Linked DNA regions of Homo sapiens. The protein of the gene in region 3 interacts with the protein of the main gene of each other region in a pairwise test. Each region holds a gene or a part of one and is shown on either strand. Other genes may lie near its edges.

Region 1 (3,652 bases), on a different chromosome or scaffold from region 3:
TCCAATCTCTATGATCTTTATTCCTGGCCTTAGAGTTACTGTAAATCCCAGATATTGGGGCTCCTCCAACTTGGGAGGGGTGGAGGTTATGGAGGAAACAGGATGGAACCAAACCAAAAAGGCAAACTGGGTCTAGCGCTAGAGGGGAAAGAGGGGCCCTCGGAACACACAAGATACAGGCCGGTTCACCAAGGTAGGAGAAAGAACTGGAAGAGGTTAATAGCTCACTAATAACGAAGAGCATGCCATTTGTCCTTGGTGCACTCACAACACTTTTTAGGGGTGGCAGCAGCCACATAGGTGGCTGACAGGGATTCTAGTCCTCTTTTCTCACCATAACATTCCCAGGCTTCTTTCCTTTGTCCTCTCTAGTTTACAATCTAAATAGGTGCTTCCAACCTTGATTTTTTAAAATCAAAGCCTTAAACAACAACAAAAATCACCACACCCAGTTTTATGATTGCCTCCATAAAATAGACCAGGCACCTTTCCATGATGCCAGGCCAATGGGCAGGGTGTGCTAGGGTAATATGCCACTATTATGCCCTCCCTTAAAAAAAAAAAAAAAAACCTGAAGATCATCACAAATGTCTCCACTGCCTTTTTTTTTTTTTTTTTTTTTTGAGACAGAGTTTTACTCTTGATGCCCAGGCTGGAGTGCAATGGCACTGTCTCAGCTTACCGCAAGCTCTGCCTCCCGGGTTCAAGCAATTCTCCTGCCTCAGCCTCCCGAGTAGCTGGGATTACAGGCACCCGCCACCACGCCCGACTAATTTTGTATTTTTAGTAGAGACGGGGGTTTCTCCATGTTGGTCAGGCTGGTCTCGAACTCCCGACCGCCAGGTGATCCGCCCACCTCAGCTTTCCAAAGTGCTGGGATTACAGGCGTGAGCCACCGGGCCAGGTCAGTTACTCCTTAAGTATGCAAAAGCACTCAACAAAAAAACACCTCAGGGGATCATGCCTGCTGGGTGGTCTTTAAAGGAAATGGGCTACTTTCCTATACTGGAAAAAAACACCTGACAGAAAAAAAGACGCTCTAGAGTAGCTGAAAATAAAATGCCTGGCTAATGCAGAACCTGATGAAGAAATAGGATGAAGTGTAACATTCTACTGAGGTCATGATATCCCAGCATAAGGCAGAGTTTTAAATCTTGTTTCTCAACAGGGGGAGGAGTGGGGGCCAAGGAAGGAGCATCGGAATCACTAGAGACATTTAAAATACAGTCGGCCCTCCTTATCCATGGGTTCTGCATCCATGGATTCAACAAACTATGGATCAAAAACAGTCAGAAAAAAATAAAGAAAGATATAAATAAAACAATACAGTGTAACAACTATTTATGTAGCATTTACATTGGATCAGGTATGATAAGTAATCTAGAGATATATCTAGAGTAATCTAGAGGTATGATAAGTAATCTAGAGATGTTTTCAAGTATATATTATGCAATGTGCTAAGGTTATATGCAAATACTATGCCATTTTATATAAGGAAGTTGAGCAACTGTGGATTCTGATATCTGCAGGTGTCCTGGAACCAAACCCCCACAGATACCAAGGGACTACTATGTGTCTGGATCTCCCACCCCGACCTACTGAACCACAATCTCTATGGTAGGGCCCAGATAGGTGTATTTTTTTTTTTTTTTAAGTTCCCCAGGTGATTCTAATGCACACACCTGGTTAACAACCATAGTTAAAAAAATGATGAGGCCAGGCACAGCAGCTCACGTTTGTAATTCCAGCACTTTGGGAGGCTGAGACGGGCGGATCACCTGAGGTCAGGAGTTTGAGACCAGCCTGGCCATTATGGTGAAACCCAGTCTCTACTAAAGATACAAAAATTAGCCAGGCGTAGTGGCGGATGCCTGTAATTCCAGCTACTCAGGAGGCTGAGGCAGGAGAATCGCTTGAACCCGGGAGGTGGAGGTTGCAATGAGCCAAGATTGCGCCACTGCCCTCCAGCCTGGGCAACAGAGCGAGACTGTACAAAAAAAAAAAAAAAAAGATAGAAACATTCTTCAATCAAGAAAACTACAAGTAGACCAAAAAACTCAGGCTTCAGTTTCTTCATTAAATGAGATGGTTGAACTAGATTAGCAGTTGAACTAGTTATTGGTAGTGTTTGGGGGAGGGGAGGTGTTAGCCAAAACACCCTCTGTAACAAGTGAATTTTATTCAAGAAATTCAACAGTAAAACAAAAGCAGAGCTACTTTGGATGGGGGAAGGAAGGTGTGTTGAAGCTCTTCCCTCTCACCCCCAGGTCACCTCAGTGGAATCACCAAAGCTCCACAGAGCACAAGATGGTCTCTCAGAACAGCTGCAGCTTCCAAATTCTTTGACCTTCCAAACCTTGAAATCCACAATTTAAATGGCAGAGATCTTACAGTTTTTGTTTTCTTATAAACTTCATATGAGAAAATGCCCCCTTTTCTAGTGATATAGCATGCCTTGCTATGTCATCTTCTATTATTTAGAAAGACAAGTGTTATCCTCCTCACTTAAGTCATCACTGAAACCCAAGCTCCAGTTTCCTGGAAGTTTTAAGCTCAGAAAAGAAGCCTAGACACAAGAGGGCATGCAAAATACAGGTTAGTGTTTGCCCCAGGAGAAGGAAGAATGGGACCAGAGGGGCACAAAAAAGACTTTAAATGTAGCGATGTTGGTTTTGTTTTGTTTTGTTTTTAGAGGAAAGGGAAATATCTCAAATGTTAACATTTGTTAGTTCTGGAATACAATGATGTTTGTTGTACTGTTCTCTGGACTTTCTTGTAGCATTTTAAGATTTTCAGAATTAAAATACACACATACACACACACTTGTTTATTAGCACCACTTCAAACACCCTTTTTATTAAACGTTAATTACAAATATTTCATTATCCCTCACTTGACTTTTCCACCAAAGCTCACTTATAGAATACATGATCTATAATTACATCTACCCTGGGACTCTGCAAAAGAACACAAGCACCAGAACAAAAGAAATGAATCACTGATAACAAAATGACACTCTAAAATTAAGACCACAAGGTTGTGGGGCATCTGAAAAAGGAAAAGAGCAGCTTTACATTCACTTCACAAAGAATGCAGAGGATGCTGACTCTGAATATTGCCAAACAGATGGACCTACACCAACAGCACCACGCTTCTAAGCCTCCCAAACCAAGCAGCCACTCCGCAGGTCATAGGAGGAGGAGACTCAATTCATATATAAATCAAAATTCATGAAGCATAAGTGAAACATTAAAGCCAATAACTTCAAATCCTAAAAATGCTATTTCCACCCCACAGTTGGTAACGCCCAAAACATGCACAATAAGCATAAGACTGAACAATAGAAACCTGGAAAACCGTTCAGTACACTTAAATGCCCATCACAGTGATTCATGATAAACTCTCATCAAGGCTACTTATTGCCATAAATAAATACCCTACCTATACTTATTCCCTCAACCACCAGCTTCCCAGTTACATCTATAACATACTCAAATAAATCTTTTCTTTTTTTTCCCCCCACCAAAAACAGGAGTTTTGTCACCCAGGCTAGAGCACAGTGGTGAGAGCACGGCTCACTGCTGCCTCGACCTCCCGGACTCAAGTGATCCTCCCTCCTCAGGCTCCCGAGTAGCTAGGACTACTGGCATGC
Region 2 (2,682 bases), on a different chromosome or scaffold from region 3:
AATACAGAATTTATGGAGTTACAGTATGCTAGAAAAGCAACAGACAAAGCCAGGTGCGGTGGCTCACGCCTGTAATCCCTGCACTTTGGAAGGCTGAGGCAAATCACCTGAGGTTGGGAGTTTGAGACCAGCCTGACCAACATGGAGAAACCTCGTCTCTACTACAAATACAAAAAATTAGCTGGGCGTGGTGGTGCATGCCTGTAATCCCAGCTACTTGGAAGGCTGACGCAGGAGAATCACTTGAACCCGGGAGGTGGAGGTTGAGGTGAGCCGAGATTGCGCCATTGCACTCCAGCCTGGGCATCTAGGGTGAAAGTCTCAAAAAAAAAAAAAAAGCAAAGCAAAGCAACAGACAATACGATCACTCTCTGCTGAGGACCGAGGCATCTCACCCCACCCTGGGGTGACCCTCTACACCGGGATGCAGCTGGGGACGGAGGCGGAGGGAAGGGAGACAGCAGAGGGTAGAGGCTGACTGTCCGAAACCTCCCATGACCCGTGACCCGTGACCCAAGAAGTGCGGCTCCGGCGTCGCGGGGATTCACTCACAAGCAGCCCAGCTGATCCACAAACTCCGCGTCGGGGGTTTTCTCGAGGTTTGGGGTTGGAGGGTATCGGTGGCGCCAAGGTCAACACGAAGACAGACAGAGGTCACAACGCCTATTTATTCCCCACACGTCACGCCCTGCACCCCGGGTGGGCTTGGCACACACCTCACCGCCATGAGCGGCTGCAGGGCCGCGGCGGCCCCCGTTCCTACTGCTACCTACGATACACGGTACTGCGCCTACCTCACAGACGGCCAGGAGCCAGGGAGCCCCAGGATGCTCCGACTGACAACCCTGCTGCTGGGACCACGGCGCCGTGGGCTCGTCTGCCACCCCCAGGCCTCAGGAACCCAGACAGGCTGCCTGCTGTCCGGCTCTCCGGCTGCTTTCCTGGTGGCTGTTTTAGGGCCAAGGTGGGTGGCACCTGAGGTGTCCCGTGGCCTCCACCCAGCACAGGAGGGGTAAGCTTCCCTGGGGGGCCCCGGGCCCATGAAACATCCAGGACAGAAGGACAGCAGGATGGGACACAGACAGAAACGGCCCAGCTGCCTTCCCTGTGCCCGGGGCTAAGGCGGCCGGGACAGAAGGTCATGATGTCGCCCCTGGCTCTCAGTCGCGAGGACCAGAAAATGAGGGTGGGAGGAGGGGAAACATGTCTGTCAACATGCCCAACTGGAGAAAAGTCACAGAAACTGGTCCTATGCACCCAGGACGGCTCCTGAGCCGCGGAGGCGTGGGGTGACCGCAGCCGTCTCTTAGGTGTCTGCCACTAAAGAGTTCCTCATGCAAACACACATGGCCCGCGGTGCCCAGGCCGCAGCTGGCAGTGAGCTCTTCCGAGCAGGCACAGGGCCGGGGTGGCCGGGAGGTCGACTCGGAAAGAGGCTTCTCACAGACGGGAGAGTTCCTGCAGACAGACCACGGGATGGGGGGCGGGGGCTGTAAAAGGCTTTGGAAGCCACACGATCCGCCACACGGCTGAACGTGAAACCTGCCACTTCTCTGAGAGCGGCCCGGGAGCACCCCAGGATTCTAGAAAACACTCAAGTGACCGAGCTTTCTGGGGGCTGGAAGGGAGGTCGCTGCTGGTCTGTGCTCAGCTTGCTGGCTCTCGTTTCAAGAAGGGTCTGGGGGCTGTAAGGGAGTTACAAAAAGGGAGTGGAGGAGGGCAGAGATAAAAGGGGAAAATCCATCTTGACATGCAGGTCCGAGGTCTCTCTCTTCCCCTCTCTCAGGCAGTCCAACAGGAGGAAGTGGCAGACAACCAGAAGGCTTCCTTCGGGTCGGCCAGGGAAGGACGCGGTCACACCGGGAGCAGCTGGAAGGGGACAGACATGAAGGCTGTCAGAGCGCAGGTGGGGACCAAGGCTGCACCACACACTCCAGGCAGCAGGAGAGGCCCAGAGTGGACAGCCAGGGGCCACAGCGGCTATTTCAACGAACGTCAGAGCCACAGCTGCACCAGAAGCGTTCCACACACTCGGGGCCACGTGTGGCTGGTGGCGCAGAGAACATCGCCATGACCTAGAAGGGTCTACAGTATGGTGGTACTTTGTGTATGAGGTTACGGTGGTAAAAAATCCACCTCAACTATTAAAAAAAGAAAAGGAAAAATAAATAAAAGCTTATTTAAAAAAAAAAGGGAAGACTGGAAGAAAAGGCGGCCAAAATATTAATGTTGGTGGCTCTGGGTGAGAAGATTAAGGTTGGGCTGAATGCACGGCTCACACTTTGGGAGGCCGAGGCGGGAGGATCGCTTGAGCCCAGGAGGTTGAGGCTGCAGTGAGACGTGACTGCACCACTGCCCTCCAGCCGGGGGGACAGAGCAGGACGGTCTCAAAAAAAAAAAAAAAAGATTAAGATTGTTCTTGCTGCTTTTTAACATTTTTGTATTTTAAATTTGTCTACAGTAATTATGGTTTAAAAATGAAAGAGAGTGTATATGAGGAGGGGACAACGACAAAATGAAGAGGCCACATGGGAGCAGAATGGAAACACCTCTGGGGAGGCCCGGAGCCTCCCGCCCCCAGGGAGCCGGCGTCTGCTGGAGACAGACAGGACTGAACTCAGGGGAGCCTCCCACCCCTGGGAAGCCGGTGTCTGCTGGAGACGGACAGGACTGAACTCAGGG
Region 3 (3,652 bases):
GAGGTGAGAGGATCGCTTGAACTCCTGAGGCGGAGGTTGCAGTGAGTCGAGATCGTGCCACTGCACTCCAGCCTGGGCAACACAGTGAGGCCCTGTCTCAAAAAAAAAAAAAAAAAAAAAAAAAAAGTCTGTTTTGACTCAAAGCCCCAAAGTGAAGGGCAGTGCCCCCTAGGGGTGAGCTGAGGAGCACCAGGCAGGAATAGGAAGGCAGGGGGCGCCATCTCAGTGGCTTCTTAGCTAAGCCCACCCTGGCCACCTTCATCTAAAACTGCGGTCTCCAACTAACCCTGCCTCCCCGCACTGAGGCCCCCAGCCTGAGTAATGGGGAAGGGCCTTGAAGAAGAAAACCTGGCCCTGTGAGGTCGCAGAGGATGCTGCTCTAGCATGGCGTTGGGGGTGGGGTAACAGGGTCTGTTGACTCACACTGGGCTAGGGCTGACGCCAATACAAGAAATAAAATCAACATGCCAGGTGCGGGTGGCTCACATCTGTAATCCTATCACTTTGGGAGGCTGATTAGGCGGATCACCTGAGGTTGGGAGTTCAAGACCAGCCTGACCAACAAGGAGAAACCCCGTCTCTACTAAAAATACAAACTTAGGTGGGCGTGGTGGTGCATGCCTGTAATTCCAGCTACCCCAGAGGCTGGGGCAGGAGAATCACTTGAACCCGGGAGGCGGAGGTAGTGGTGACCCAAGATTGCGCCATTGCACTCCAGCCTGGACAAACAAGAGTGAAACTCCGTCTCAAAAAAAAAAAAAAAAAAAAAAAATCAACACGTGTGGATGCTTTCTGCACATCAGAGGCACCACCTACATGATCCTATTTAGCCCTTGCTATGGAGGAGGGCACAATACCTATTTTCCCGCTGGAGAAGCCCAGGTCAAGGAACAAGTCTGAGATCACAAGGCTAACAAGTGTCGAAGCTGTGGCTAAAATCCAAGCCTCTTAACTGCAGAGTCTAGGGCATCAGCAGAGATTTCCATTTTTCTTCTCTTCACCATCACAGCAAAATTTTTTGTCAAAGGAATTCTTACGTAGAGACCTATCATACGGAACAGTTAAAAGTAGGCCTTCGTGAAGAGGATGGACGTAAAACTCCCCCCAAATCGGCCTCCTCTTAATTTTCCTCTCCAGGTATGCACCCCAAGCCCTCAGTGGCCCCCAAGGCAGCTCCACGGAATACCACCCGCAGGTTTCAAAGTCACTGGCCCCCGGCTGCTGCTGTCACTGAGAGCTCATAGCCAAACCCCTAAGACAGTATTTCCTTGGCCCTGCACTCACCTGCTCTGAGGTGAGAGGGAGAGATGGGGAGCAGAAACACTTCTTCCCTATCCACAGGCCAGTGGGGGAACCCAGGTCCTTCCCCTCCTACCCTGCCCAAGGCCCAGCTTATGGGGGTCCTGGGACACCTCGGATCCCTGTTGCAGCTCAAGACCCAATTAGGAAGGAGCCAGGTTTCTTTGTGCATTACCAGAAACTGCCCCTCAGGACCAGAAGGCTACAGCCACATAACTGGAGGACTAAGTGGGACCAGGCTTCCTGAGAGCTGTGTTTCCTGAGAGCTGTGTGCAGAGGCGAAGCTGATCTGACCGGCAAGGTGAGGACAGAGGGCAGCTACAGAGACGTCCAAGGTTTGCAGGGACCAGTTCTGCAGTAGCATTTGCCAGTCACCTACTCCAAATATCCACTCTCTGCTTCCTCCTTGTAACTGAACCACTGTTTTTTGGGTAGGCACTTGGGTGCCTGAAATAAAAATTACTCTTCCCTAAGTTCTCTTTCCTGCCTGCCTTTCAGCTAGTGTGACCACATGCTAAGTTCTGTTCAACAAAATGTGACTAGAAGTGTCACATGTGGTTTCTGGGAGGCACACTCTAAAGAGGAGCCACATGCTTCTTGTTCCTTCCTTTTTCCTGATGGCTGGAACTCCAGCAGCCACCTTGGACCACGAGGCCACGTGTGAATGATGGCAGAACCACTATACCACCCCTCTGAAGTTCTATGATATGAGAGAGATATAACTGATGCCTGTCTTATTTAATCCACTACTCTTTTTTGTTGCTATGAGCAGCCAAATCAAGTTCTAACAAACACAAGCCCCAATCCTCAGCTGAAGGATCCTTTGGGTGGGGACAGCACAGGAGACATGGCCCCCTCCTGCTTCCTACCAGGAATCCCTGCTCCTTCCTGCCCATATGCCCCCAGGACCTAGGCCGGCCCCCACCTGCCACCTCTTTCTTGAATCAGGTAGCCTTGCATTTACAGAGCACAGGCTGGCAGGCAAGTTCTAAGCCAGCCCTGACACCTACTCACTTACTAACTCATTCATTCAACCTATATTTATGGAACAGCTACTTTGAGCTAAGTGCTATTCTAGGTGCTGTGGCTACAGCACAATGGAAGTCCCTGCCCTCATGGAACTTACAGTCTAACGGGGAAGAGACAGACAAACAAACAAACCAATGAACACATATCAGGTGACGAGTGCTATGGAGAAAATAAAGGCGAGTAGGAGGAAAAGAGTGTGCTGGGGGGGAGGGGTTTCTAAGCAGAGCAGCCCCGGTAGGCCTCTTTGAGAAAGTGGCATTCATGGGGAGAGCTGAAGGAAGTGAGGGAGTGAACCACGTACATATTGGGAGAAGAGCTGGTTGTATGATCTACTGCAAGTCCTTGCATCTGTGCCTCAGTTTCTCCTCTCTGGAATGGTCTGTGAGATAAAGGTCATGCAAAGGCAGGCTACCCCAGCTGGAGGGCTCTGTGGTTCCAATCAGTGTGTTGGGAGTAGGTTGGCATGGGAACCTGGCTGGATGGAGACCAAAGGGACTCAGTCCTCAGGCAGAGCTCCATGAATTTCAGGTAAGAAGGAGCTGTGGCTTCAGCCTCACACACAGCCAGTATGTTCAAAAATTACAGAGTGCCCTCCTCACCGGCTTGCTTAACTGCCGTCCCTTCTACTCTGATCAGGGTCAGGTAGCTGGAAGGTTAAGAAATCAGACAGCGTAGACCCCAGGTCAGTCCACACATCCCTAGGGGCCTGGCTCTGGGAGGTCCCTGCACCCCAATCCAGGGCCAGATAGCAAGCCTCTCTCAGCCGCTCCTTAGAATTCTCTTCCCCCTGAGTGGAGGCACATACATAGCCTTCTGGCCATGACAATTGGTGGACGAGGTGCCACCCTACACCCTGGTCCTCGGAAGTGTGAGGTGGCTTATTCCCAAGGGGAATAAGGCTACAAAAGAAGAGAGGGTGGTGGTGATATATGTCGGGGAAGGGGGTGGGGATGGTTGGAGGTGGCCCAGGGGCCAACCTTAGCTGGGGGACCCTCTTAGCTGAGGGTCTGTGCTTGCTGCTGCTCCAGCGATTCAGGGCAGGGCCAGGACTCAGAGACAATGCAAGAGCTTGGGATGCGGGAGATGTGGGCAAGGGCCACTGATGAATCTGCAGCTGAACGCTGCATTTTGTGCAGCCAATTATCCCGCAAACATTTCTTAACCACCTATTTGGCTAGAGGCTGTGGAAATGACAGGGGGTCCTCAGCCAGTGGGCCAGTGGCAAACACCGACATATTTAGGCACAATGCATGGTGGCCAGTGCTATGGCACAGTATTCCAGGCACCCTTAGGAGTCTAACTCTTAAATAGCAACATGGCCCCA

The links.
Region 1: the proteins of PODXL (region 3) and IQGAP1 interact in binary tests that used the Homo sapiens proteins (3 or more experiments, as listed by UniProt).
Region 2: the proteins of PODXL (region 3) and SGTA interact in a two-hybrid assay, tested with the Homo sapiens proteins (one large-scale study listed by BioGRID).

What each region holds. Positions count from the first base shown.
Region 1 is NC_000015.10:90,391,107-90,394,758, reverse strand, and holds part of IQGAP1 (ras GTPase-activating-like protein IQGAP1), read right to left. Parts: intron 1-3,652. UniProt on the Homo sapiens protein: Plays a crucial role in regulating the dynamics and assembly of the actin cytoskeleton.
Region 2 is NC_000019.10:2,754,065-2,756,746, forward strand, and holds the end of SGTA (small glutamine-rich tetratricopeptide repeat-containing protein alpha), read right to left. Parts: intron 1,870-2,682; 3' UTR 651-1,869; downstream 1-650. UniProt on the Homo sapiens protein: Co-chaperone that binds misfolded and hydrophobic patches-containing client proteins in the cytosol. Mediates their targeting to the endoplasmic reticulum but also regulates their sorting to the proteasome when targeting fails.
Region 3 is NC_000007.14:131,546,627-131,550,278, forward strand, and holds part of PODXL (podocalyxin isoform 1 precursor), read right to left. Parts: intron 1-3,652. UniProt on the Homo sapiens protein: Involved in the regulation of both adhesion and cell morphology and cancer progression. Functions as an anti-adhesive molecule that maintains an open filtration pathway between neighboring foot processes in the podocyte by charge repulsion.